Regions from separate parts of the Homo sapiens genome. Here regions 1 and 2 are each linked to region 3. The links come from fine-mapping of genetic effects on gene expression. A gene starts in region 3. Each other region holds a variant in brackets. All regions are shown on one strand. Distances are from middle to middle. Region 1 overlaps PCSK2 (proprotein convertase subtilisin/kexin type 2). Region 2 overlaps PCSK2 (proprotein convertase subtilisin/kexin type 2). Region 3 holds the start of PCSK2 (proprotein convertase subtilisin/kexin type 2).

Evidence for each region. PIP is the estimated chance that this variant, and not a neighbour inherited with it, causes the effect.
Region 1: its variant is the best candidate, but not a certain one, in a credible set for the expression of PCSK2 in testis (GTEx, PIP 0.72).
Region 2: its variant is the best candidate, but not a certain one, in a credible set for the expression of PCSK2 in prefrontal cortex (ROSMAP, PIP 0.63).

What each region holds. Positions count from the first base shown.
Region 1 is chr20:17,315,069-17,325,209 of GRCh38, reverse strand. All of the region lies in intron 2 of PCSK2 (proprotein convertase subtilisin/kexin type 2), which reads right to left. The region is part of intron 2 of LOC105372546 (a long non-coding RNA gene); the gene reads left to right. Among named protein-coding and RNA genes, the nearest start is that of PCSK2, 93 kb to the right of the region's middle. The variant C/T (reference allele first, on the strand shown) is at 5,884.
Region 2 is chr20:17,480,829-17,490,969 of GRCh38, reverse strand. It overlaps PCSK2 (proprotein convertase subtilisin/kexin type 2), which reads right to left. Exons shown (of 12, transcript NM_002594.5): 12 at 6,392-9,386. The coding sequence ends at 8,900. Among named protein-coding and RNA genes, the nearest start is that of BFSP1, 45 kb to the left of the region's middle. The variant G/T (reference allele first, on the strand shown) is at 5,466.
Region 3 is chr20:17,221,518-17,231,658 of GRCh38, reverse strand. PCSK2 (proprotein convertase subtilisin/kexin type 2) reads right to left here and starts at 4,619. Exons shown (of 12, transcript NM_002594.5): 1 at 4,177-4,619. The coding sequence starts at 4,353.

The DNA.
Region 1 (10,141 bases), 94 kb before region 3:
GAGTAAAAGTGGAGACAGCCTGGACCCACAGGGAGCTGACTTCTTGGGAGGGAGGCAAATGACATGCAATTACAAGGGAGATGAATTTCTCAAAGGAAAGCTGTTGTGCATGCATTTGTGGGGGATCTGACATGTTTGTGGTCTCAGGAAATCTTCCACGAGGAAGGCTGACCTGAATTCTGCAGCCAAGAGGAGTTTGACTGGGCAGAAGAGGGGAGCCTTCTATGCACACTGTGTGGCAAGGAGAAGCATGGTGGCCTCGCGACACTGCACAAAGCCTGGTAGGGCTGGACTTCAGGATGAGGAGGGGGCTGTGAGGCAGTAGGGGGTCTGTCTTCTGGCAACCCAGTATTTGAGCACCCTGATTATTTGGGACATCCCCATTTCCTTCTGCAGATGCTGAAGTAGGGGAAGAGACCTTTCTCCATGCACTGTGGGAGCATGCTTTTTAAGCATATCAAGCCCACAGCTCCTTCTCAGGCTGTAAGTCTTTCGGGAGGGCCAGGAGGGTACATACTGGTTAGAGAGTTCCATGGGGGCTACTGATAGCTGAACATTCAGCAGTAGGGGGAGTATCTGGGTTGTGGAATCTGGCAGCAGGAAGAGGGTGATCAGGACCAAGGTGGGCTAGGGTCTGCAGGAGTGTCCTAAGTCGATGGTTCTTATGGTAGGGCCTTGGTTACTCGTCTCTAAATCAGCCTGGTTCCCATCTTGCTAATCTGATTCTGTGAGAGATGCCCTTGTAATAAATTCATTTTCTGCATTAGTTACCCAGATTCTACTTCTGTTGTTAAACCTAAGAACCCTGATAAGAATAGGTAGGTAGGTGCCAGATCATGCCAGCTCTTCCAGGTCATGTTAAAGAAAGTGGCCTCTTGCTTAAGAAACCTAGAGATCCATACAGAGGTGTTGGAGATGGGAGGTGACTGTCAGATTGGAGCCAGTGGTTATAGCCTGGTATCATTTGAGCTTCTCCAGAAGACCCCAAGACAAAGACTTGAGTATAGTTTATCTAGGAGGCAATCCCAAAAAGCAACAATGGGGAGAAAAGGCAGCCAATACAAGGTATGTTATCAGGCTTGTTACTACTGTCCACAACTAGGTGTCAATCCCATTGGGGAATTCTGGGAATAGTACAGAAAACATGTCTCAGAGTCATCCCACGTGAGGGAGGAGGGAACTGGGGTATTTGTCCACCAACTCCCATCAATCATTGGTTGAGGGCTTCTCTGGTGGGGAGCATTCACTACTCAGAACTTCCAATCTGCCCTGAACCAGGGCCAAGTGGGAACTGCCTAAGATGAAGAGTTGCAGGTATTGGCAGTTGGAAATCACAGAATCTCTGCTCCCAGAAATGGTCAGGCCTGAGGACAGTGGGTGGGACACAAGAGTGTCAGCTCACCTGGATAAAACACTGGCTGGCTTTTATATCTTATAAACAAAAATGCTGTCCTAGGCTGGAGGCTGTAGAAAAGAAACAGCAATGAGTGCCCTGTGCTGCCCATGGAAAACTGAGCAATTGAAGAAACATATAACAAAGCTTTAGTTACTTTCTATTTAGTCCCTATTTATAATTTGTTTCTGCTTCAGAGGAAAGTTTAAAATATGCAGAACTTGGTTTTGTAGTTCAGTAGACTGAAGTTAGAACCCTGGCTCCACATTAATAGCTTTGTAATCTTGGGTATGTTACTTAATCTCCTGTTTCTGGAAGTACCAAAAAGATGACTGTGAACCGATTATATTAGTTTGCTAGGGCTGTGAGAACAGGTGGCTATAAATAACAGAAATTTATTTGCCCACAGTTCTGGAGGCTGGAAGTCCGAGATCAAGGTGTTGGCATGTTTTGTTTCCTCTGAGGCACCTCTCCTTGGCTTGCAGATGGCTGTCTTCTCCCTGTGTTTCCTCACATGGTCATCCCTCTGTGTGCGTCTGTGTCCTAATCTCCTCTTCTTATAAGGACACTATTTGCTATGGTCTGAATGTCCCTCAGAATTCATGTGTTGTAACTTACTTCCCATTATGGTGGTATTAAGAAGTGGGGCCTTGGCTGGGTGCGGTGACTCACGCCTGTAATCCCAGCATTTTGGAAGGCTGAGGTGGGCGGATCACCTAAGGTTAGGAGTTTGACACCAGCCTGGCCAACATAGTGAAACCCCATCTCTACTAATAATACAAAAATTAGCCAGGCGTGGTGGCATGCACCTGTAATCCCAGCTACTCTGGGAGAGTGAGGCAGGAGAATCACTTGAACCCAGGAGGTGGAGATTGTAGTAAGCCGAGATCACGCCATTGGACTCCAGCCTGGGTGACAGAGTGAACTCCATCTCAAGAAAAACAAAACAAAACAAAACAAAAAAGAACTGGGGCCTTTTGGAAAGTGATTAAGTCATGAAGGTGCCACTTCCATGAATAAATTAATGCCCTTATAAAAGAAGCATCAGAGAGAGTTCACCTTTCTTGTCCTTCCATCACTTCTACCATGTGAGGACACAGTGTTCCTTCCCTGTGGTAGATGCAGCAACAAGGTGCCATCTTGGAAGGAGAGACTGGGCTCCTGACAGACCCCATAACTGCTGGCCTTGGCCTTGATCTTAGACCTACCAGCCTCCAGAACTGTGAGAAATAAATTTCTGTTCTTCATAAATTATTCAGTCAATGGCATTTTGTTATAGCAGCACAAATGAACTAAGACATAAGTCATATTGGATTAGGGCTCAACCATATGACATTGTTTAACCTTAATTACCCCCTTGAAGGCCTATCTCCAAATACAGTCTCATTCTGAGGAAGGGGGGTTGGGCCTTCAACCTATGAATTTTAGAGGGGCACAGTTTATCCCATAACACCAATGAAACAGCTTACTTATCAAGATTGATGACTTACTCATCAATACTCCTTTCAAGACCCTTACCTCCATATGCTTACCAACCCAAAGAAACTTTTCATAAACTTTTCCAGTCCCAACAAGTGCCCTGCCTTGCAAGACCAACTTCGAAATCACCCAGCTCAGGCCCTAAAACCATTCTCCATTAAGACAATGTTCTCTCTTATTGCAGGAAGTGTGATAAGCTTTGCTTGATCAACAGGTTTCTTTTGTGGGCTTTGAAGAGTAGATAAGATTGAATAAAATGATCAATGAGTACTCTGTTATAGTACTTGGCATTTAGAGGTGTTTAACCAGTGTTAGTTTTCTTCCCTAACATTGGTTAAACACCTCTAAATGCCAGGTACTGTAGCAGAGAGGTACATCACAAGAGAGATTTTCAAAGCATGAACGATAATTTTTATTTTTCTTCCTTTGTTATGCCCAATTGACAAAACCATCTCACTTCAAAATCCTTCTGTCTCTCTGTTTTGTCTGAATAAATCTATGCCTGATACAAGTCAGCAGTTTCTAGATTATTTTCAACTCTTTTTAATAGTTCTTGGAATGTCGGAATCAATTAGAGGTTAGTCAAAGGTTTTTTCATGTGTAATACAATTCTGCTGAAGATGGCAGTTGGTGGGAATCTTGCAGACTCTAGCAGTTGAGAGTGAATTATGGAATCAACTACTGTTATGTAAATTACAAGAAAATAGAGGATAATTTGTTTCTCCCTGTAGGATCAGAGCATGATGCTCTTCACATTGAAAGAAGTACTTATCATTACCTGATTTTGTTAGAGCTTTATATGCCTGTCTTTCCCCAAAATGGAAAGCTATTAGAAAGAAAGGATTATTAGCTCTATACTTGCTATGTAATCCAAGACAGAGTCTACACACAGTAAAACTTCAACATAAATTGATTAAGTAGAATTGAATTTAATCCTCAGCAGTGAGGAGAGTATTGGAGAGTGGGGAAGAAGGAGGACAACATTTGTGTGCCTTTCATGGATGGGCTGCTTACATACTTCTGTCACTGCAATCCTATGTGGTCAGAATTGCTATTGTCTTTTAACAGATAAGGAAACTGAAGTTGAGGGAGGATAACTTGGCCAAGGTCACAGTTTTGAGAGACGACAGGGACAGAATGAAATCCAGATCTAACTAATATTGCTTCCTAATGGAAAGCAAGGAAAAAATCTTTGCTTTCCTGTTGAGTAACTTGGGTGAATAATGTTGAAAACAAATACTTTATTTAAGGCAGCTGAGACATTATTGGTTGGCATAACAACAACAACATAACCCAACCAGTCAACAGAAGGGGGAAAAGGCAGAAATAACCGACAGGGCTGTTTGATGCCTAACATTTTGCTTGTTTTACTAATGTGTTGCTTTTCATGTGCTTGCCTTGGTTTTAGTCACAACCATTATACATTTAAGCTAGTCCTGACTTTCTAGTTAGTACTCCGGCGATGGTTAAGGCAGAAGGACTCTAGCCTTTCCCATATTCCTTCTGCATTCTCCTGTACAAGCTTGAAGCTGCTTTTAGAAACCCCAAAATACTGTCTCTGCCTGAAGGCTTTTCTCTGACTCACTAGCTGTGTGCCTAAGGAAGAGTGATGTGCTGGAGAACTAATCCTCCCCGAGCACCCTCCAGCGGTCTCTGACAGGGAGTTTGTGGATAAACACCCAACTTTCTTCCCATTGGGTGGATGACTGAGTCATGTTCTCCACAGTTTCCCAGAGGTGCTCAGCAAGCCTGAGTCCCAGTTGCCCACACTGGTAATTTCCTTGAAAACACACACTTTATGGTGTTTCTTCCCTTTCCTGTCTCACTTCCTCACTTTCACATTGGTGCTGCCTGAGGAACTTGACCTGGGTACAGAACACTTTTAGATCAAGTGGGCTGGCTAGGGAGGGGAGACATGAGAATTCAGCTCTTCTCTGCTGCAGTGGATAACTGCAGTTATGAAAAGAAGACACTGATTCCAGGAGGATGTGTCTTGCGACCAAGGGAACGAGTCTCCCTAAGGTGCACTGTAGGAGGAGGAATTCAGGTTTCAGAGTATGTCCTATGAGTTCTATATGATTTCTGGGAACAACATGGATGAGAGCTAAGTGTCTCCTGGGCATACACCTTTTGCAGTAGGACAGTTCTCCCTGGAAAGGCAGTTCATGTGCACATTGAAGTTTGAGAAGTACTGCCTTATGAATCTGAAAATAATATAAGAAAAACATAACACCTTGAGCTTCAGTTGGTTTTCCCTCATTACATCTGCTTGTTTACCTGCCCACCTGAGCTCTGTCTTTTCTTTCTGAAAATATTTTCTAGACTCTTTAGTCCTGATAGATTTTCCCCTTATAAATAAATTTTCCTATCCTAAAAATTAAGTGAAACTACTATATCAGTGATTCCAGATGCTTGCCAATACCTTCATAATTAATGTAGTATTGAGTTAGTCATGTGACTTTGGGCCCAAAAAAGTCACCTTTCTGAATTTAAGTTGTCCAAAGAAGGATTTGAAGATAGCTGAGATCCATTTTGGCACATGCTTACATGATTCAAAGTCCCTAGAGTTTTGGTCTGGTGATACGGATAAAAGCATTTTCAAGGATACGTCTGTGGTAGGTTGTTGCAGTAACGTCCTTGATTTATACCCCCCTCCCAGTGTTCACCCCCTTGTGATTTCCTGCCCATACTGGCCCTAGACCTGGCCAAGTGACTTGCTTTTGCCAGTGGAATATAGTAAACATGCTATAAGCAGATGCTTGAAAAATGTTTCTGCACTGGGGCTTGTTCTGTCTTGCTGCATCTTGGAACACTGTTGACCACCAGCATGTGAACAATCTTGGGCTACTCTGTTGGAGATATACAGGGCCCAATCCCTTGCACCTCCCAGACAGCAGCCAGCATTAAAACCAGAAATGTGAGTGAGGCCGTTCAAGACCAATCGGCTCCTACTGACACCATCAGCTGATTGCCTCTGCGTGAGGAACCCCAGGCAAGACAAGCAGAAGATC[C/T]GCCTAGCGGAACTCATCCTAAATGCCTGACCCAGATTATAGTGAACTAATAAATACTTTTTGTGGTAATCTATTATGTCTTAATGGTTTGTTACATAGCCAAAGCTAACTTATTGCAACTTTTTTGTCTTTATCTTATCGGGGCGTAGCTTGGTAACTATTTAAAATGGGGAATTATAGGAGCCCAGGTATAAAAAAAAAGTCATTTTAATAATCAGAAATTAGTTACAATTTACAATTAATTATTTAATGGCTCACTAATGATTAATTCTTGGTTGATTACATCCTATCTGATGAAAAAATATGTTTTTCTCACAAAGCATGATCTGTCTTCAAACACTGGCTCAGAAATGAGCATTACACATAACAAGATGGGGCTTTTCTTCTCTGTCTTATTCCCCCATTTCTGATTGCAGCTGAATTGAATAATCCTGCTCTGGCTGTTCTGATTGTGTGTGTACTCTTCCCATGGGCTTCTTGTCTAAAGTGGCAGATGTATTTCTCTCTATCTCCCTGAAGAAATGACAATAGAAGTAAATTGTGGCCCTGTAGCTTATTCAAAGCTGCTGAAAGCAGAAGCAGGCTTCAGAGAAACCTAGCAGAACTTTGACATTCATAGGCGTCCCTGGCAGATGGTGATTGTTGGGTGGAATGCCCCGTGGAGATGAAAGAACACCAGCCACAAGTGGTTTTGGACCATATTGTTTGGAAAATGACAAACATACTTATTGTTTCCTGACTTAAGTCAAAATAAAACAGACCAAAACAACTCCCACGCTGCAATCACAGACACTTGACATTACCCAACTCATATACAATGCAGAATGCATTTTGCCTTTGAAACAGGGGCTGGTAATGTTGTTTTTCATCTATATGAAATGATGAAAAACATCATTTTTTTTTGGATATAGGACTTGGGCAAATGAAAAACGTGATGACAACTCGACTTCAATACATTTTGGATCTTAAATGTCCATTCATCAGGAGCCGGTAACATGCTTCATCTCTCACAGAGGGCAGGCATAAAGCCCCTGCAGAACCTCTAAACAGTGCATAAAAGACTAGAACACAAGTTCAAGGACTGGAGTTTTCTTTGACCACTTTATAGATGGAAATTGAGCTGGAAGTGTTCTGTCTTTGGTTTTCTTTGGCATTCAGAACTATGTTCCAAATAGGAGCTCACTGTAAGCAAGTAAATCAGAATATAACCTGCATGGCAGATCTTAGAACACATCCAGTCGTGCAACTAAGTAGCATCCAAAGCCCAGGATGAATGCTGGAGATGACTGACACATCAAAACAAATTTGAATGACACATACATTTTAAGAGACTGTCTGTAAAATAGAATCAGGCAAACCTTTTTTCTATTCTGATTTATTCTCTTCATCTCTGCTGCAGGCAACCCTCAAGCTATTTGGTTATTATTAATCTTTCCAGCCATTCCATAATTGTCCTTCCTGCGTCTACATCTTTTTTTAAAAAATTATTTTCTTTGTTATTTTCCAACCTTTCATGTGTTGTTTATGTGTTCCCTTTTGAAAAAAGAAACTCTTCCCATGTCTCTTTTATTTTGGGGGTAGTATTTTATTATTATTTCTATTTTCTGTTACTTCTTATTTCTACTCTTTCAAAAACTGTCTGGCAATTGAATGTGCACATGAATAAAGAGGAACTGGAATGAAAATGTCCAAAAAGGATGCTGGAGGGATTGGGGGAGTTGTATTGAGGTGGAGAGGAACAGATGGCAGCTGTTAGTAAAAGAAAAACACGTCTAATAAATGAAGATTTAGTTGCCCATTTTTCAAATCCAAGTTTGTCAAGAGGGACACTAATGGACACAGCCAGAATTGGCGGCAGCACAGTGGGAAATGGCAGGAAATTATGCCCACTCCAGTGAGAAAAGGAAAGAAAAGATGGGTCAACTGGGTCTGGAAGGAGCTTTGGATAATTCAAATGAATATAGGACTATGAATATCTTTGTGAATTTGCAGAATTCACAAAGATGTTCCAAGGAATAAAGTTTAATAGGGGGAAAATTATGTATCAGTAATTCACATTTCTCTCCCTCATGCCCACCACTTTATACTGGGGGACAGCTGAGTCAACTCTCAAGTTCTTCTTTATTAGGGAGAGTTTGGGAACTGAGAGAGAATTAATGCATATAGAGAGGCTAAGTTGATTTACCTAACTAAGAGCTAGCAGGAGCATCTGTTGGGAGAGAAGAAAAGACTGAGTCAGAATGTTTGGGAAGCTGGGAGATGTCAGGGCAAAAAGAGAGAATGTGGCACTCTCAAAAAGCTGAGAAAACAAGGAAGGAAAGAAAAGTGGACTTTAGAACATGTTCCCATTAGCATTCTCTGAGAGAGAAAATACTAGCATTAATTTTTGATGACTTTTGGCTGCTGAACCAGATTTTTTTAAAGCCTGCACTTCATAGGGCCTGAGAATTACTTATGTCACGGGAAATCTCCTGGTGCATTCAACTCTTATAATGCCACAGGAAATCTCCTGGTGCATTCAACTCTTATAATCTGTCTGCCACATCACAATATTACATTTCACAACTACAACATCACACATCACAGTATCAGAAACATGGGGCTGGTGGAGAAAGGAGGCATTATTAGCTTAATGATCAAGCACAAATTGATGCTGCGTTATTATTCTAACTTTTTATAGGACTGTGTATCTCCTGTAAGATTCCATCCTGAATCCTGGAAAAGGATTCTGGGTTGCCAGCACTCTAGATTCACTTAGAATCAGACTCTGACACTGGGATTTGAGAGCAAGTAGTTTATTTGGAGATGGTCCAGAAAGCTCTGGTAGAGAAAGGGAGACAGGGAAGGGAAGGAAACAAGTAGAGGCTGTGTTTTCAAGCTTGTTATCTGAAGAAAATTATACAAGTGCTTGCTTACATGATATTTCACCTCTATGTGCCCAGAGCCTGATACATATATTCATACATACACAGACATATAATTTTAAAGCATTTGCATGACTTAGATAACAGACGGCACCCTTGGTGTTTTTCACTTATATCAGCCAACCCTGGGTCAGTGACAATGGAGAAGGAAACGAGAAAAGAAACGTGCGAGGGTAGCAAAAAGAGAGGCATGTCCTGTGAGTCGGTAGTTAATATTTACTGAGCAGGCACAACTTGCCCACACCAGGTGCCCAGTGCCTTCTATGCCTGAGCAACCCTATGCGGTCAGGACGACTGAGATCCATCTGACCTATGAAGAACGAGCCTTAAAGAGGGTAAGGCTTAGGAGTGGAACCCAGGCGGCCTGACTGGAGAGGCAGAGTTAATCTCTGTGGCGCACTCGCTCCCAGCAGGAATGATCGCGTTGTCAACAGAGATGCCAGCAAGGCCGGACAGTTAATTTTTAACCCTGGGGAGTGGACGCAGCTAGAGCCCCTTGCTCCTGTGCCTGCTTGGCGGGTGTGTCCGCGCGGGCCATGGATTCACACTGGCTTCACACCGGCCGGGGGTGAAGCACCGGGACAGAATGACAGCCACGGGCCAGGACGCCGCAGCCCTGCAGGAGACCGTGTCGGCGATTCACATTCACCCAGCGCCAGACTCACCCCCAAGCCAGGCTTCTCTTTTTCTCACTTAATCACTGCCTAGAGAACAGGAGCCTGTTGTGTGCGAAAGGATGGGCGCGCCCCTGGCTGCAGGCACCTACTCATTCTCTGCCCCGTTTGGGGCAGAGGGAGCTGTGTGGGCCCCTCAGCTCCGCCCCTGCCCGTGGAGGGCGTGGAGGGCACCAGAAAGGCGCCGGGAGTCGCAGGTCCGACAGAGACCCGGGAGCTGGGCGCTGTGCACCGGGACGCTTTCCGCGCAGGAGGGAGGCCCCCTCTGGAGGGCCAGAGAGTGATCGGCCACCCACGGGTTCCCTTATAGCGCAGAAAAGCATCCAGGGTCAACCAAGCTCACGGGTCACCTCTATAAATAAGTGTGCAAATCTTTGGTTGTGCAGTTCTGAAAAATCTAATTCCTTTTTTTTTTTCCTCCTCTTTATTCAACTCTCTGGCCAACCCCTCCCACCACATCCCCAACCAACACACTCAGGAAGACACACACCATCACCACCACCACACCACACTGAGAGAGTCAGGCAGTTATGATAAATTTGTGCTGGGCATCAGAGCGGGAATTAGTCCTGGGAGGGACTCCAGAAGTCCCAGGCCCTGGTTCCTCGGTGTTGGGCTGGAGGAATCCGCAGAGAAAGCCGCAGGGTTTTCTCGGGGAGA
Region 2 (10,141 bases), 260 kb before region 3:
GAGCCTCAGATGCCTGTGAAGAAATGCACTGATCAGTGCCTCCGGTATTGGCCTCCTCCTTTTCGTGTCTCACTTTCCTTCTCAAGATATAGATGCTTCCTTTCACATAAATGACTTGCCCTTCACTCCTTGTCTCAGGGTTGCCTTCTGGAGGACCCAACCTGAGACAGCAGACTAACATCTGCCACTCCTACCTCCCGTCCCTCAGGTGACAGCCCTGATTTTGTATTGAGTAGCCGCTCCTCCCACACTGGATACAACCCTAATGTATCAAGATATTCTGCCTTCCTCTGGCCTCAGGGTGGGCCAGTGACCCGGACCAGCCCAATCAGATTCACCCTCAATGAAATTAGAAATCTGAGTCCAGTATAGCGCAGGCTGCAGGTGCTGGCACTTGCCGCCTGAGACCCCGGCAAGGTTGCCTGCCAATCCTTGCTGTGTTTCCGGGTCCCCAGCCTTGCTCCAATCACTGTCTTTTTTCTAGGATGGTGTTGGCTGGTTCTTCAGGCCTGAGGGCTACACCACATGTTTTTGACATACTGCTTACTTGTTTTCGCTAGTTAGAGTTGGTTTTCTTTGCTTGTAACCCCAAAGATAACTGCTAAGTAATAAGGTTAGGTATCAACAGATAAGGAGGTTTGGATGAAGTTGGGTTGTCCCCCAAAGCAGACCCGGAGAAAGGTCTTGGGTGCAGGCGGTTTGTTAGGGTGGTGTCGCAGGAAGGATAGTAAGCTCCTGTCTCTTGCTTCAAACCTGCCCCTCTCTACCCAGTGATGCTGGGGCTGGGACTCTGCAGCCAGGTCCTGCTTAGCCAGCTGCTCCCTGGGAGGTGCTGTTAGAGGGGAGCTGGGGGAAGACTGAAAGTCTGGAGGAGGAAGAAGGCACTCGCTGGCTTTTGTTTGCTTTCTGCTCTTGTCCACACCACCCCAGCAATCCTTCTGTGGTCTGAATGTTTATGTCCCTTGCAAATTCATATGTTGAAGGCCTTACCCCAAGGTGAAGGTATTAGGAAGTGGGGCCTTTGGGAGGTGATTAGGTCATAGGGCAGAGCCCTCATGAACCAGATTAGTGCCCTTATGAAAGAGACCTTAGAGACCCCCTCATCCCTTCTAGCATGTGAGTTCGGAGTGAGGAGGTGCCATCTATGAACCAGGAAGTGGGCCTTTGCCAGACGCTGAATTTGCTGGCACCTTGATCTTGGATCCCCCAGCCTCCAGAAGAGTGAGAAATAAATTTGTGTTGTTTATAAGGTACCCAGTCTATGACATTCTGTTACAGCAGCCCAAATGGACTGAGACAGCTTCTTCACCCTGGCAGTGGCAGTTCCTTCCTGTAGCAGCAGCTGAGTCCAGTTCTCCATTTTCCCAGCATTTGCAGGACCAGCCTCATCGCAGTCTCTGCAGAGATACCTGCACTAGCCTGCTGATGCCCCTCCTTGGTCTGGGTCCCAGCACACTCCCACCTCTGAGACTTCCAAGTTGTATTAATTCCAACCTCTCCTCTTAGGTGGTAGCTAGCTGCTTCTTGAAGGTCTGCTGACAAGAAGTGGCCCACTAGGCACTTGTATTCCATAACCAGCGCCATACCACCCGCTGGGCTTCTCCCTAAAGACTGTAAGCGTTGGTTTTACAAGAAAAAATCTGCATGGGTTTCCTTGAGAGAGTGCCAGTGGTCCTGAGGGAAATCTTGGCATGAACCAGCTGCTGGGTGGTTTCTCTAATCTTTTGGCCTCATGCACCTGTACCCAAGTCAGATGACTGATTTGCACATTGGGACCACTACAGACCTCCACCTGAGCTTCCTCTGGCTTCACTCTGCCAGGTCTTAACTCCCCATCTTTCAGGTCCTAACACGTGCACTTGTGCTCCACTTCCGGGCACTGTGGGTGGGTAAGGCAGGCTGGGGTGCCACGGATGCCTTAGGATCCTGCCCGAGCCAGGAGGGCATCTTCATTGCGTGAGCCCCCCACTCCCACAAATGTTGGACTTTTTGGTCCATGTGATTCTTGTGTTTTCTTTTGCTTTTTGAATTAACTAGGTAACAATTCATTATACTAATTGTATGGTACTTTGTATTAAATTCTCTCTGTTAAAACCACTGGTATGGTTTCTGTCTCCTGACTGGAGAAAGAGGAGGCATGAGATGGGGAATGGATGTGTCCACGCAGGGGGCATTAATGAGGTGGCCACCACTGTGAGCAGCTGGGGCTCCATCCCACTGGGGACCCTTCAAGAGAGCGGGTGGAACATCTTCAAATTGTCCCAAGCAGGAGGTGAGGAAGCTGAGCTATCCGTCTACCAGCTCTCCATCCCATTTCTCCTCAGGAGAGGGTGGCCCTAGGGCACTGATGCCCTATCACCTGTGGCCTGCTCCACACGAGGTCTGGGGCTTTTCTGCAGCTGGGCAGAGTGATAGAATGGCCTTTGGCATGCATGGAAACTGCCTACAGATAACCTTTAGGTGGGCCAAGGAGATATAGGGCAGAGGTTGGCAAACCTTTTCTGTAAAGGGCCAGATTGTAGGCCACACAGCCTCTGCTGTAACTACTCAGCTCTCTTGTGGTAGCATGAAATCAGCCATAGACAATACAACAACAAACAAGCACAGTTGTCTCCAACAAAACTGTATTTATAAAAGCAGACCGCGTACTGGGTTTGGCTATAGTTTGCAGACTCCCTGATACAGAGGATGCACCAACAGTCTGCCGCAAAATTCAGTTAACATCTCAGAAGACACTTCTAAACCTGGCATTGGAACCTGTCTCTTCCTTCCACCTTCATGTTGGGAAATTCCATTTAGTTCTCTCCTCGACTTGAAGCTTACATTATAAGAAAGATCTGGCCGGGCATGGTGGCTTACTCCTGTAGTCCCAGCACTTTGGGAGGCTGAAGCAGGTGGATCATCTGAGGTCAGGAGTTCGACACCAGCCTGGCCAACATGGTGAAACCCCATCTCTACTAAAAATATTTTAAAAATTAGCCAGGCATGGTCACACACGCCTGTAATACCAGGGGAGGTCGAGGCAGGAGAGTCGCTTGAACCTGGGAGGCGGAGGTTGCAGTGAGCCTGAGATCATGCCACTACACTCCAGCCTGGGCAACAGAACAAGACTTTGTCTCAAAAACAAACAAACAAACGAACAAACAAAACCTAAATGAAAAAAAACCCCGAAAAACAAACAAACAAAATCTTCAAGCAGCCATTACTATCAAGTTTATCCTAAAATTTTTCTAACATAGATTTGTGGTTAGGACACTGCTGGTGAATGAAGTCACCCCAAAACTCACATGGCATTTGGCACATTGATGATTGGTATCTTGATTGGTACAATACCTGACTCCATTTTCTCAGGCATGGATAAAAGCAAGCAAACAACATAAAAAGCCACACTGACTTATGTTGTATTCAAACAGAGTTTTTGAGTTGAAACTTATTTTATCAGAAGATACACTCCTGGTCAATGACTCCACTGGGCTGATGCCCTCACCAGCTGTACCTGCCCCTTTACCCTCATGCTTGCATCCTTGTGACCAGGAGCTTGCCTGTCACCTGTGGCCCATCAGTGGTCCTGGGACATGGTGCCAGAAAAGAAAAAGATAAATTTTAGCTTCTTCCCTCCATCTAGTTTGAGTAGCTCATGGGATATCCTCTCAGATTCAGAGGGACATCTTTGAGGGTGTTGTGAGGTGGCACACCCCATCTTGGGATGGGGAGCTGGCACACCCCATCTTGGGATGGGGAGGGCAGGTTGGCCCAAAGCCTCCTGGTTGGAAATCAGTAACAGTGACGTTAGGCCTAAGGAATTACCAGCCTCATGTGGCTCTTCTGGCACCTGAAACTCTGTGAGCTGAGATTTCTAGTTGCCTTCCCATCCCATCCCACCGCAAATCATGCATGAATGAGCATTAAACATTTAGCCACACAGAATCTTCATCTTTTTAGGCTGAGTGCATCCCTCACCTGAGATCATTCTATTCCCAGGTTCACAAACGTGAGTCTCTTCTCAGTTCTAAGAGAAACATGGAGCCAGGACCTTGGCTTGGAGAATTTACCCTAGGTTCTCAGACTTTGATTCCAGGTCCCTTATACATCTTAAACCAAATTTGATCAGGGTTTTTTGAAGCCAAGGAAAGGGTTCAACTAAATGCACAAGAGACTAATGGAAAAACTCAAGTACTAGCTGATTAGTTTACAATTCAAAGAGAGGGTGTTGTTTTCTGCAGATCTAGCTGCTTGGATCGTTTATACCGGTGTTAATGTTCTTGGGAAGCTGCATAAGGCATGAGGAGGCTGTGGGTGAGCATGCAATGGGACCATTGGCAAGTGGTGGTGTTTTAATGCACTCTCTCTGGGGGTGGCTTTGCCAATGTATTGGCCTGTATCCCTCGATAGACTTCAGCTCTTCAGAGACTGGAATTCTCCCTTATGTCAGGCTTCATGTTTCCCTACCCTGAATGCTGCCAGACACTGTCTTCCAGCTTTGGTCACCCTGACTCTCATTTATTCTAAGCTCCCATGTGCTGAGTGCCCTCCATCCTCCCACCCTTTCTCTTGACTTATTCTTTAGAGACAAAGAACCACCCTGCTGGCCACAACTGAACCACCTACATTAGCCTAGGAGACATTCTGTCTCTGGCATTTCACAATTCCAGAGTTTTAAGGATCCCCTAACTCTCTTCCACAACCACTGTCCTTTATCTTTGCATTTTGCTTTTTAGAAATTTCTACCAAATTAGACTATTTGCATCTAAACACTTTAGCTGTGAGATCACCATTTCCCCTAATTCAGCACTTCTTTCTGTTAACTATAAAATACTTATGTGTCCTGAAGGTCTTACACTGTGTGGTTTTCATATAATCACTCCAAGCAAATGCGCTGATCACATGAAAACCATGCATTAACTTATAAGTGATACGAATGAAGACATAGAGTAGTAACTCTATCGGAATTTTTAAAAATCATTTTTTAAACTTAATCTTTTGGAAATCCATCTTTAAACCTAAGTATTAAAAAGGAGTGTCTCAGGATCACAAGATCAAACCTTGGACCTTATATCCGCCAATATCTATTTTTAGTAACAGACTCTGTTTATATTTATTTATTTTTGGGACAGTGTCTTGCTCTTCACCTAGGTTGGAGTGCAGTGGTGTGATCACGGCTCACTGCAGCTTCTACCTCCTGAGCTGAAGCTATCCTCCCACCTCAGCCTCCTGAGTAGCTGATACTACAGGCACATGCCACCATGCCCGGCTAAGATTTTAATAATTGAGTTTAAGTGTTATATCAGAGGACAGAATTATAAATTGTTTTTATAATTAACTTTGGTAAATATAGTATATTAATATTTTATGAATAATTATTAAGGTCTTTTTCTAGAATAGTCTGTGGTCTATGGGGTAAGGTACAGCCAGTTTGTAATAATGTTCATGGTACCATCCATGAAGAGTGATTGCCATGTTAAATC[G/T]GTTCTTAAGAACATGTTTTAAGGGAATGTCAAGCACTCTCTGTAGTGGAGACTCTAATGCTCACCAAATATTCCCTTAGTTGTCACAGATTTCCCAGTTGCTTTGCATTTAGCCAGGGCTATTGCCCAATACTGGCCAGTGGGCAATGGGCAGAAGCGATGCATGTGTCTCCTTCAGGCTAAACATAGAAGAGCAGATGAATGTCCTCCTTGGGTTCTCTTCTGCATGGTGATTGTAGCAGCCTTGTGCTATGATTACAAACCATACGGTGAAACAGCCTGGATCCTGAGTCACTGCATGGAGGTCTGTGGCTTTGGGGAGTCACCTGAACCTTCACTGGAATTTGTGTGGATGATAAATAAACCTTTGTTGTATTAAACCACTGAGATTTTGAGATTGTCTGTTACTATAGCATAACTTAGTCTAGCCTGATTAATATATTTTAGAATAGTGTTTCTAAAAGATTTTTGACCATCACTCACAATGAAAAATGTATTTTACATTGTGATCCAGTACACACACTCAGACACACACACGTGTGCACACACACATCTGAAACAAATATTTCAGGAAACAATACTTATCCTTATTATGCATGATTATTCTATTCTATTCTATTCTATTCTATTCTATTCTATCCTATCCTATCCTGTGATTTTCTTCTCTCCTACTGTATTCTAAATTACTCTATTTTATTAAAAACTGACCTCCTAAATTGATTTTACAACCCACTAATGGATGTAACTAGAGTTTGAAAAATACTGCTGTAGATAATAATTTGTGTATGATTTATATGTTAATTATAAGTCTTTTATGCATACTTAGTAAAGCAGGCTCTTTAGATCTCTCTTTGGCAATTTTTAAATTATCTGTTCCTAGAATGGATGAAAGTATTTTCATGTACAATATAGCACATCTCACATAATTTCTGGAGCATAATGTTTTATTGTTGAGCCTCCTAATTTACAACATGTCTTTTGAAATTTGCTTATAAAATTTTGTCACAGGGAGCAACAATGTTAACCTAATTATTATTCACTTATTTTCATTTTTTAAAATAAATGACTATAAATAACTGTCTCTTCAGTTAGGATCAGGGATATCATAAAAACATCACTAGCGAGACATATTTTAGTATTAATACTGATGCAAAAAATGAAATAGAGACCAAATATTTATATATATAGCACTATATATATTTTTATATATTGTATACTCATATCAAAACTTGCCATTTCTCTTAAGTAGCTGATAAGTTGCTTTCTAATTTTATAAATTACACCACACCTGTGAAAATATGGACAACTATTTTATATTTTTGCTGCTATATAAGACATTTAATGTTTATACAGAGAGCTGAAAAATTACAGAGGTGATGCAATGGGAATTGATGAACATTTTCACCTGAATTTCCACTGGCCTTTTTCAGCCAGAATCATCTTGATATTCTCTGAATATTCTTTTAGAAATGAGTATGGTATCTGTTTCTTCAATAAATACACATACACACATTATAGGTATATGTGTATATACATTTATACAAGTGTATGTATATATACACATATATACACACATGTATATAGTCTACATATGTATATATATTTCTGTGTGCACTTATACACACATGCACACATAATGTCCTTTGGTTTATTTTTAGACCATTAATGTGAAATGAATTTTCGATGATTTCCATTTATTTTTTCTTGAAATCTAAACTGGTTTAAAAAGACCTTTGCAACAAGTAATAAATTTCTTTTAAAAAATCATATTATTACACTTTAAAGCATGATATAGAGAAGGTCACAAGGTGTTAGAGAAGACAGAAATCCATGCCAATATGGGAGAAAAGAAAGCAAATGGGGTTTTCAGATTTCTCTCTTAAAGTGGCCACCTTCAGGGAATTGAACCTAGTGCTCTGTGTTGCTGGCTTGAAGGAAAGGTGCTCCAGGCTAAGCTCTCTGCTCCCACAGGAAGGGAGATGGTGCCTGGAGAGGCTGAAGACAAAGCATTTCTTGGGAATGGATGTGCATTGGGACTGGGGATGAGAAGCAATCTCTGGGTAGGTCACTTTGGTAATGTCTAGTTGGGAATGGAGTGGTGACTTTTGGGATTGACCATAACCTTCGGGTTGCATGTTAAATGGTCTCAGGGACTGCTTAGTTGCCGAGAAGGTGACTGTGTGCTTTCCTCACAGAGGTCTTCTCTCACCTCCTTCAGGCCTCAGGTTCCTCTGGGATGAATTGCATGGCCCTCTCTTGGCAGAAGAGGCTCCATACAACTGGAGAACTATGTGAAGATAGCGCTCGCATCTTCAAACGTGCCCCTTTCACCTCCCATGACTCTTCCGGGACAGAGGCCTTTTTCCCAACACATTAATGACATCAAACTGTGGGGGAGTATGAGATTTCTCTTCCATTATATTACTTGGAAATCAAAGCCCACATCTGTGTGTGTAAAGCTGTAAAAAAAAAAAAATACTCCTGTCGCCTCTCACTCAGATCAGATTGAGACACCTCAAAGTGACTTAGGAAAAGGGACATTCTTGTTTGAAAAGCTAGTAAACTACTCTTCACCAGGTGTGTTGCCAGGCTTGTCTTAATTTTTTTTCTCTTTTGGGTAGCTATGTGAGGAGCCCCAGAAAATTGGGGCTGGGATGAACTCTATACAAACTGAGAAAAATTTGGGCTGCTCTAGCGGATTTTAACATAACTCAGAGCAGCAGCTGGTGAGAGCACAGCCACGCTCTGTAAGTTTTATATTTGCCACGCCGGCTGAGTAGAGTGAATTATCTTGGCATTGGTAGTAAAATATCCAGCACTCATGCTTCCTGGATCTCTTTCCCCATGCAGTAACTAGGGCTCTCTATGAATGGCATCTTTTGAATCACATCACCTTAATCTACATCCCTGGTAAATCTCACTAAATTCAAAACATCGCTCCCCAAAGGATTTATAGCACAGTGTCTCCTGTGCTTTCAGAGATGTGGCGCTCACACCCTGTCCTCAGCTTTGATTTTCTTGTTATGTAACAGCCCCTTGTTTGAGACCATGGACAATTGTTCTTGGAGTCACTCTATGTGGCTTTTAAAATACGTTCTTTTCTCAGAAACAAAAAAAAAAATGAGGGGAAAGCTGTCCCAGTTTTTTTTTTTTTTTTTTTTTCAGGATATCACCCATTTGAATGACAGAAATAAAGAATTTAGAGTCACACATAGGACATGGATGTTGTTGGGAACGCTATATTTGGGGCATAGAGTAAAAAAGATTGTTTCCATTGTAATGAAAATAATCATTGACAGTGAGTGAAGCTTCAGATTAAGAAGACGGAATTGCCTGTACGGGTGATGGAATTGCTAGGTGCCTGCCTGAAACGTGGAGCGAGGACAGAGGCGGAGCTGGGGAGGGAGGGCGGTGGGAAAGGCGGATGTGCAGCGCTAGTTCTTGTTAAGGATGCTTTTCAGGCTTCTCTCCACGGCTTCGTCCAGCTCTTCCTCCAGCTCCTCTTTCTTGGACATGGCCAACTTGGACTGGTAATCCCGCACCACCTGGTCGATGTACGGGGCACTCTGAGTGCCATGCAGCATCAGGGTCCACTCCTTCAGCACCCCCTTCTGCGGGGCGCTGCCGACAAATCCCAGCTCCAGGGTCCAGGTGCCTCGGGCGTCTTCCCCCCACGTGTGAGTGGTCATGAAAGGCCACTTGTCAAAGCCCACCTTGGAGTCGTCATCCCTTGGACGCCGGCTCAGCAAAATGGACTTGGTGCCCATAGGGGAAGTCATGTTGATGTTCAGGTCTCCTCTTCTGGTTGCGTTGACCGTGATGACAGCCTGGACATGCTCCAGGTAGCGGACAAAATTTTCCTTCCCCTCACAGGCGTCGGTTGTGAGTGTCAGCACCAACTTGCCAGTGGATGGTATTTTCCTGAGGGCAGAGTGAAGAGGAGATAGGATAAGCAGTGGTGGGTGCACCTTACAAGGGATTTTGAGGGCAGCTTCAGGTGGCGGAAAGGGCAAGGGCTTTGGGGTTGATCAATCAGACCTGGGTTTAGTTCCCACACTGGCTGTGTGAGCCTGAGTAAGTTACTTATCTCTTTTTTTTTTTTTTTTTTTTTTTTTTGTCTTTTGAGACAGGGTCCCACTCTGTTGCCCGGGCTGGAGTGCAGTGGTGTGATCTCAGCTCACTGCAACCTTCAGCTCCTGGGTTCAAGTGATTCTCATGCCTCAGCCTCCCCAGTAGCCAGGGTTACAGGCATGTGCCACCACGCCTGGCTAATTTTTTGTATTTTTAGTAGAGACGGAGTTTCACCATGTTGGCCAGGCTGGTCTTGAACTCCTGGCCTCAAGTGATCCAGCTGCCTTGGCCTCCCAAAGTGCTGGGATTACAGGTGTGAGCCACCACGCCCGGCTGTGAGCAAGTTACTTACGCTTGGAACCTTCTGTGTGGAAGGAGAATGTAGTAGATGCTGTGATGTCCCTCCTGAGTCTCCTAAGTCCCTTCTGAGTTCACCTGCAGCTGAAGCTCCCTTGCACGTCCACTGCTTCCCACCCCAGGCACGAGAATCTCCCCGTGTTCCCCCTGGGCTTCCTCCCACCTCCGTGGAAGCCTGCACAGCCTGCGTGCAGGGCGGCCCAAAGGTGGCAGGGATTTAACCTTTGAGGGGTAGCTCTCTCCCAGTG
Region 3 (10,141 bases):
TTAGGCCACTAAGTTTTTTAGTGATACACAGCAATAGAAAACTGATGGTCTTATAAAGCTGTATGCATGCATATCCTTTTACTCAACAATTCCATTTCTAGGATTCCCTGTAGAAGGCCATATATGTGTTTGCCAAAATACGTAGACTTTAATATCCACAAAAGCTATATTTATAATAGCTAAAACCTGAAAACAAAGCAAGTGAGTGAGAAAAGGACTTAGGGATACTGGTAATATTTTATTTCTTGATTTGGGTGCTGGTTACACATGTGTGCTCAGTTTGTGAAAATTCCCTAAGCTGTGTTCTTTCCTAAATTATACTTTAATAAAAGTGAAGCGACCAGAAATTTATTAATTTTTTACTACCTGGCAGCATAATGATTATTAGGTTGTTTTCAAAATTAAAAAATTCTCACACATTATAAAAATGGTCACATGATTTTACTTGTGTAATCATTTCAGCATCTGTCCTCTGTGGATAAAACATAAAACACACCATAATACAATGAAACCCCTAGGATAATATCAGGTTCTTTTTAAACCCTAACTCTCACTTGATTTTTGGTTAATCTTCAACAGGTTGCTTCAATAAATAATTTTTGTTTTCTGTTTCAAATCAATTAAAATTAGTAGCATTTTGAGAATTTTAAGGCACTCTTTGGAATAATGCTTTTGTCATTACTGTAAACTCATTCACTCTCCTAGACTTAAGTATCTTTTCTGATAGACATAGGTCTTTGGGCCAGGGCCAGGTCATGATAAAATAGAAAGCTTTAATCTCCATAACCTTTTCAGAGGTAAAGTTATAGGTGCTTTTATTTCATTTTAGAGAGAAAACAAATGTTTGTTCATGGTCTTATAAGAATCAATCAAATAATTGACAAACAATTAAATATTCATATACAGGCCACCATGCTAGATATGGAGACTATATAAAGATATAGTATGTCATTTCTCCTCTTGGAAGATTTATAGTCTACCTGAAGACATAAATACACGTACCCATTAGCTAATGACATGTTCATGTGTTAATAGAAAATAAATGATAAATATAATAAAAGTAAAAAGAAAAGGGAAAATAGCAGAGCTCTAAAATTGTGTCTCAAGGGAAGAGTTCTTGGCAGTCAGGGAAGGCTTCCTGGAGGCAGCATGATGTAGAAAAGCAATTATTTTTCAGTTAAGCAAATTTGGTTTTAAGTCTGAGTTCTTTTACTTCTCAGATATAAGCAGATACTTAACTTCTCAAGGCCTTAAGGTTTTCATCTGAGAATTACAGCTGATGCCAGTAATTTCTCTCATAGATTTGTGAGCTTAGAATGAGATAATTTAATAAGAAAGCATGTTCTTCTAGCCTCCATTGCTGACCTTTCATATGGATGAATAAATAACCACTGAGAATCTTTTGTGTCTGACACTGAGCCTCGGAGCAGGGAGCAGTAGGGAGTTGGGAAGCATGCTAAGCATCAGAGCAAGGAAGGAGAAGGACATAAGGGCCTCTAAGATGCACAATAACAAATGTTGGCAAAAGTACAAAACAGTATGATGAAAGCAAGATAGGACGGTGTCTGGGAAACCTGGGATAATAAATACAGACAAGGAAGTTTCCTTCAAGGCTGGCAAAACAGTAATGTGCTGGTTACAGGGAGGAAATGAGAAATATAGGAGGTATCATCCCTGAATATTTACCTTTTAAGTAGAAATACAACAACTGAACCCATATTTACTTATATACCTGAAATAATGAGGAAAAGTGATGGCATTTATTAGCTTATGTAGTGCAGTGTTTGCCTATCAGTCGCATAAAAATTTGGAGGAGGGAAAGCTCACTGTGGTCTGTAGCATCAGGAAAGGTTTGAATTTAGGTCTTGAAGAATGGACAAGACATGGATCCAAAAGGAGGTTTATTCTAGGCAGATGTTGCACCAGGCAGTCCCTGTTACTTAAACGTGTAAAAGGGGAAAAAAAATCACTGGATTTGGTTGTGGGGTACTACCTGAGAGGTTATGGAGAAGTAAGGAGAGAGGTCTCTCAGATGGGAACTGCAGGTTTCAGGTTGTGATGCAAAATCAGTGTGCTCCTCTCCAAGAAAGAATGAAGGACAAAGAGGCCTAGTTATCTGATCTCTGATCCTAAGGGCACATTTTCAAAGGGGGCAGCAAAGAGAAGAGAAAACCACTGAGAACAATGGTTTTCAGAAACCTATGGCTCCCTCCCACTCCCCCGCACCCATGAAAAGGTGTGGGGGAGGGGGAGGGAGCCACAGGTTTCTGCAGCAAGATCACACTCAAGAATTAAAATCCCTTTTCAACTTATCTCAATGCCCCACATCCCCTGAAAGCACCTAGCTTGCTTGGGTGGGTACTAAGGAGTAAAGAGCATGGGTTCACTTCTGAAAGATCTGGATTGAAGCCCTTGCCTGTTTTTATCTCGCACCCTTTTCTGAACCAATTTCCTCAACGGGGCCATAGGCTCAATAATGATAGTAGCCTCCTCAGAGATGTTGAGAAGATTAAGTAAAAATCTATGTAAGGACTCCAGCACGTAAGCTTCCGTATAACTAATAATAATCACTATTATATTTTATAATGGCGTTTGGGTCCTGGGTCTTGCCAAGTTTGGGGTGGGGGGGAGTGAAGAAGGAAGGTCGGCTTCTTTATTGTGTTGGTGTCTCTCAAAACAGCCGGCAGGCCACGGGCCAAAACCACAGCGGGGTGCTCCCTCCGCCGGCGCCTTCTTTCCCCTGCTCCACCCACGCTTTCCAGAGCAACAAGTTCCTTTCCGCAAGACCCGCCCGCGCGCCACCGGCGGACCCAGAGCCTCTTCCCAGACCTCTGTCAAACTCGTCGCCAGACCCTTCTGGGGTCGAAATTCCGGTACTGCCTACGCCCTTAGGAGGAGGGAGAGGCCCCCACACCTGGAGGAGCCCTGGCGGTGGCTGGGAGAGAGGCGGGAGGCTTGGGAAGTCAGGACAGAAGAGACTAATAAGAGCTTCGGTCTGCGCGGCCCTTCAAGGCAAAACCAATAACCAAAAGCACCCACCGCTCATCTCACTCCTCTCTCTTCCTGGGATCAGGAGCGAGATGGAGCCTAAAATCTCAGGGACCTCCACCCAGCCCTCTGGTAGCCACATCTCTGTCCTTTGGGTTCCCCTCGCCCCACCTTCTCTCTGCACCCACACTCCACCCCAGCCTGCGCCAGGTCCCCTAAGGACACTGGAGAACCCTGATACATCTTTTGCAGGAGAGACACGCAGGTCAGCCACAGCCCCCACCCAGCGCCCTTCTCTCTGTCCTCCCAGGATGAGTACCCTGGAGTCTCCAAAGGAGATCCAAGGTGTCCAAAGCTGGGAGGCTCACCTATCTGCTCAAACTGTCGAACTCTGGCAACTTCTTGGAATGGGGATCCCCACGCTCTAGTGGGAAAGCCAGGCTGGCCGCCCACGCATCAGGAGAGGACACCTCGACTTCTCCGTAGGGAATCCCCCTCAAAATCCACCTCTCCAGCTCCTGTAGCCGGGAGTTGAGAACTAGGGAGCCAACCAGAAGTGCGCTCCAGGGGTGGGCGGTCGTGGGCGGGGGTGAGGGCGCAGAAGTTCCGCCCCGATTTTAGAGACCAGTTTCTTTCCAAATCTAGAGTCAGGAAGCCGTTGTTCCCGGAGAGGAGCAGGGACCGAAGTCCCTGGGAGGGAAGTCCTCCCGGCGCGGGGTGGGAGAAACACCGAGGTGAATTGCAGTGTCCAAACGTCCAGCCTCGTCTGTAGGAAACTATTCTTTCTCCGGGGGATGGGGGTGGGGGAGACTTCCCTGGCCAAGTAGCCAACGCCAGGCTTAGCTGTTCAGGGCTTCATCCCTCCATCCCCAGGCAGCCTCGAGAACTTGGTACCTCGGACAGCATCCCCGGAGCATGGCATCCTGTGAAAGGTGTTATCCTATTTTCGCCATCAAGTCAAAGAGCAGTAAATTATTTTGATGACCTTACTAGTACAGATGAAGGACATTTTAATTACATAACCGGTGAAAGATCACCGGAGGCAATATCGTGTTAAAGAGCCCATGGCAGAATATCTGCATCGCATGAGAAAGAGAGAAAACTTGCAAATCTGCAATGAGATTGCGCAGGGCTGCCCCCCCGTCCCCCCGTTTTGAAACAACATGCGAAATGCATGGGAGAGCTTACCTTTCGGACTCCAAAGCCGTGTTCTGCTGCAACTTGGCGAGCTTTGTCCTCTCCCCCTTTATGCAACTCCACAAGAAAATGATTCGTGAAGACCGGTCGCTCAGCAGATGCAAAAACCATGACACAGAAGAGGAACCCGGCGGCCGCCTTCCACTGGGAGACACAACCACCCTTCATCCTTCTTTGGGAGTGAAAAGTGGTGCTAGGAGGCGCGCAGGCTGGCGGAGCAGGGGACTCGGAGGGAGGGTGCAAATAAAGAATTCTTATATATAGTTTTTAAAAAAATCTTTGTATAGAGAAAGAGACTGAACAGGGTCTTGGAAAGCAGCGAATCAGTGTGTGTTCTCCAGCATCTGGCTGGAGGGGAAGCCGTGCAGTCAGGCGGCCCGGCGCGCGGGCAGGGGTGCGAATGTGGGGAGCTGTGTGTACCGGAGAGAAAGAGCGAGTGTAGGTCTGTGCTTGATGCTAAATCTGCATTTTCAGCTCCTCCTCAGCTCCAATTCCCTAGGGGCTGGGGGAGAGCACCAGCTCGGGTGACGTGAGTCCGCCAGCGGCCAATGAGGGCGGGGGAAGCGGCGGGCCCCGCCCTGGGCCGCCCCGGGCCCGCCCCCGCCCACCCCCGGCCCGGCCCGGCCCGGCCGCCTCCGCCTTCTGGGGGCGCAGCGCAGCGCAGCGCAGCGCAGCGAGCCCGCGCCCCCGCCCCTTTCAGCACCGGAGAGCTCCCCCATCTCAGCCTGGCCCGCCGCGCGCCCAGGAAAATCCCCCCAGCTGTAATCAGGCCAGCGGCGGCGGAGTGATGTCATTGTTTGTGGGAATCTGTAGGCTCTGGGAAGGGAATTACGGTGTGTGCCGCTCTCAGAGGCCCCGAGGGGAGCAGGGGCGCCGGCCTCTGTGCCTCTTCCTGCTTGTTTCCCGCTGCAAAAACACCTCTCTCTCTCTCTCTCTCTCTTTCTCTCTCTCTCAAACACACACACACACACCCAAGGCATACTTGCCTCCCCTTATCCGAATAACAAAGCAAATATTAACCCTCCTCCCACCACTTTGGGCAAATCCCCGGGGAGGTTTGCTCTCCTTGGCACCAGGAGGGTTGGGGAAAGCACCTTCTAGGGGTGATCCATGGGGGGCGAGAGTGCAAGGACGAGCCCTTGTTTTTTGTAGGCTCCAGGCAGGTCCGGAGCGAAGCGGCTGGGAAGCCCAGCAGGAGACCCGGCTCGCCCCACCCGCGATGGTGACTGGAGGAGGCTCCTCTAGGAGTCCTGGCTGCACCTCCAAGATCTGCCTTCAGGAGAGACGCGGCCGGGGTGGACACGGCGGGAGGTGCATTCTCAGACCTGGGGACGTTCCACTGCACAAGGACAGCGAGGGTGCTAGTTGGGGAACGCATAGCCACCGATCCCAGGCGCCGGGCCAAGTCGCCCGCTGAACGTCTTCTACTGGAGGCGAATTCGGGCGCAGCGACGGGGGGCAGGGGCAACTAAGTTATCCGGTTAAGAAACGTGCACTCGCACTGGACTCTGCTAACTGCTGACGACGGACTCCGCTTCTTGCCTGAGAGGGAGGAAGCACGAACGTTCTGTATGTAACGAAATGAGGACGACTGTTTCAAAGCTACTCAAATATTGTTGTGTTAAAGAGTATTTACACTGATCTCATTGTATCATTTAGCTTCAAAGCTCAAAATTCTGCTTTACTTAGATAAGAGGTAAGAGATCTTTTCTTAGGGGCTTAAGTGCATGCAATTCAGAGAGAGAGGAAGAGACTATTTATACCATCGACACGTTACACACACATTCTCATGTATACACATATTCCTCTCTTTTTATTTTAGCTTGAAGTCCAAATCTACACAAGTCAGAACCTATGCAAGAAAAGCACCATCGGTAGAAATGAATACACTTTGAATGCCATGGACCACCCTGTCTTCAGAGCATGTCTGTTTGCTGACATAGTTGGCTCCCTCATAGCCCTTTAAAAAATTGTCACGTAAAAATGTGGGCGTTGCTGAAGGTTTTTATTAAAACATTAGAAGTCTATGTGACATTATTTATTATTGTTATTTGAATTCCTCTAAGAAAATTAAGCTATCTGTTAGGACTTAGGGCCATGGTGGAGGCAAGGTTTCTGGAAAAGTATTAACACGGTGAAAGTATTAATAAAGGGAAACAGATCAACTCTGGGCCCCTCAGCTCACTACTGCTCAGAGGCTCATTTCTGCCTTTGTTCCCCCTTTCTATTACTCTATTGTTTAACAGCTTACCCCCTCATAGTCCATCCGTTTGATTATAACACAAGGTTTTCATGTTTCACCGTGTTAGTCAGTATGGTCTCTATCTCCTGACCTTGTGATCCACCCGCCTTGGCCTCCCAAAGTGCTGGGATTACAGGCGTGAGCCACTGCGCCTGGCCACTTCATTTCTTAAATAGTTTCCAAATATGAAATGCTGGTAAATGTTGAATCTCATATAGCTACATTTTAAATAACTAAAACTGTGTAAAATTGGCCAGAAATGATATAAAACCTGAATGACTAATTAAAATAAGTCCTCTTTAGTGGTTTACATAAAATACAGCTCATCATAATATTGTCAGGACAGAATAGCAAATGGAAAGATAATTTTTTTGGTTATTCAAATACTAAATTTTCAATACACAACAATGTAGTAAGCAAGTGGAAGAGGAAATGTATTTATCCCTTGGATATCTATTGATACATTGTTATTTGAAATGCTAATACACACCCATGTGTGCACACAAATTGCTCTTTTAGACAACTATTTCTCAAACTCCTTTTTCCAATAACAATAGTCAAGGTGGACAGTAGAGAGAATGGCAGCAGCACATTTTGAGGATAGACCTAGAAGCCTGTTGCCAGGGACCCTATTGCAGGCTCTGCTAGTACTAGGTATGTATACCACTTGGCTGTGGGCCAACATATTGCACCTCTCAAAGTCTCTATCTTTCTATCTGTGAAAAGAGACTGTTGGATTAGATACCTCAGAGCCAAAGTCTATAATTTCAAAAGAGTTGTGAAAACATACGCTGTAATGTAGGAAGCATCATCAATAGTTTGAGAAATGCTGAGGACCACAATACTATTTAATAACATATTGTGGCCAACAGGCATACTTATTTTTGTGTAACCTCCCCCAAATGGTCTCATATTTATCAGTTTTGTGTACTTGAAAAAATAATAACTGACACAAACAGATTGACAGCACGAGATATAAAAATCACCAATACCTGGAGCTTCTTTTCATTTATTTACTTTTGTATCTGTAACAATGACGTCGGGTGTTTGGTTCTGGCTCAGATGTGCCACAGGCCCCCAGAGTCTCTTTGAAGATGTTGTCCTGCAAAACAAGACTAGAACTCTCCCATTTTATGGCTTAATACTAGAAATCAAGAGACCTTGGGTGATTTTTTAAAAAACCAAAACCACCTGAGGCATGATTGGGATACTCACATTTAGATGTACTTCTAAAAGGAGAACTTTGGATTCATAGAGCATCATGCCAAGGAAAACCTACCACTGGGGGTACAGAGCAAGCCAGAAGCAGCCGTAGGAGAGTCCCCCAAACCTTTGAATATTCTTTGGACTACTGGAGAAAGATCTAATTTTTCTGTTGATTTCTCTTCAATTGTGTGGGATGTGTAATCTGGAGAGAAATAGGGTATATACCACTGAAAATCACAATTTAAAATACAGCCTTGTTAAAAATCAGGTTGGGCTTTGCCATTTTTGCTGCATTCATTGCAAACATTTTAAATGCAGTAATGGTACATTAATCAGGTAGGAACAATTCTCTACTGTCATATTGTACTGTTGTATTAGTTTGTTTTCACATTGCTGATAAAGACATACGTGAGACTGGGCAATTTACAACAGAAAGAGGTTTATTGGACTTACAGTTCCGCATGGTTAGGTAGGCTTCACAATCATGGCAGAAAGCAAGGAGCATCAAGTCAGGTCTTACATGGATGGCAGCAGGCAAAAAAAGAGAGCTTGTGCAGGAAAACTCCCCCTTATAATAACCATCAGATCTCATGAGACGTATTCATTATCACGAGAACAGTATGGGGAAACTGCCCTCATGATTCAATTACCTCCCACTTGGTCCCTCCTACAACATGTGGGAATTATGGGAGTACAATTCAAGATGAGATTTGGGTGGGGACACAGAGCCAAACCATATTGACTGTCAACCCTTTCAATGGATTATTCCTAAAGACCCTGCCCTGTCTGTTCCCTCCATTCCAGCCCATATGCAGGCTTTCTGAAATATCGTTACCACTTTACAGATCTTTGCCCAATTTTGAACTCAGCATTGATCAAGTCTTTTTTTTTCCACCAGACTATTCTTATTTTCCAAGAACTCACCTCATTTTCCTCTAGTATTTACATATACTCTCACATTTGCTATAACTAAAAATTCAGATACTTGGGAAATTTTAGTTTCTCAGTATGCACCCACTTCTAAATCACTGTGATTCAGTTGGTCCTACCTCCAATTCCTATAGCTTTCACCAACTTGTATCTTTTCCTTAAATAACCTATCTCTGTTTTTCCTTCAGTTGAAAATTCTCAGCTGATTTTTATTATTTAAGCCATCTTAAATTAATATAGTGAAGAGAATTTATATGGCTTCAAGTGTTTATTATTATCAAAGTATTGAATCTACAGTGCTTTGGGTTATATTCCTTTTGTAATTTCATCAAAGTCATCCAATTTACTCAGACCAATCATCTCTTCACAAACAAAAGCTACTTCTCACTTCCTTATTTTCCAGGACAGTGAAAATTTGCTTCTTTTGCTAATTTAGGTTCTATTATTTTGATAGGATTTGAAGCAGCTAAACAATGAGGACGAGCGGCCCTTTTAATCTTCTTTTGAAAATTAGGAACACATTGCTATTCACTATCTTTAGATTCCTTTTCAGGTCTACGGGACTACAGAATAATGTTTGCTCACTTAGAAAAGTAATTAGTTATTTCTCAGGGTTTATTGGAACATTGCTTATTGTCTGCGGAAAGTGATTATCTATTCATGAATTCTCTACCTTGTGTTATTTCTCTTTCCTTTTTCATGATCTTTTAAAAACCATAGTAAATCTTTCTCAATGTACTTTTTAAATAATTATGGAAATTATCTTCAACAAGGAGTTTTTTTGTGTTTCTCAAACTACTTATAACTCAGAAATAATTCAGAGAGAACAAAGTATATGCCTTGTTAGCAAATATAAACAGGAATTTTAAAAGATAAAAATTTTATGTGTAAAATAAAATTTAATACATTCAAACGTGTACACTAATTTTATAAGGTAAACTCTGCCCATTATAATGAAACATAAGATTCTAGGAAACTACTTACTTTGATCTGAATGCTTTGGATAATTATACACTATTTAGTATCAGTTTGAACGACCTACCCCGAGTAGATAAATTGATGTATAATGTTACTTAACATGCTAGAGGAACAGTTATAAATTTATGGCTGTGCTCTCAGATATTTTCCACTCTTTTGAAAATATTCTATACTTTCATAGATGTTTTGGCAAAACGTGGCATTGTCTATTTTTAGGGAATTTCACTATATGATATTTACTTTATTGTCTTATGATACTGGAGTGAACCAAAAAGTACACCCTTACAAACAGATATTTCTAGAATTAGTCACTCAATCCTAGTTTGTAGATTTATTTTCTCTTTTAAAATCCTACAATCCAGATGTTATAATTAATATAGGACCTAGTTAGATTATTTTAAAGTTCTAATAACACATTCACTATGCATTAATTTCTTTTTAATTTTTCAAAACAGCTTTGTTAAGGTATAGTTAACATATAGTAAACTGTGAAGTTTGACTAGTTTTGCAATTTAACTAGTTTTGATATATGTATGCACCTGTGAAATAATCCCTGCAGTCGGATAATGAATATATCCATTTTCTCCAAAAGATTGCTCA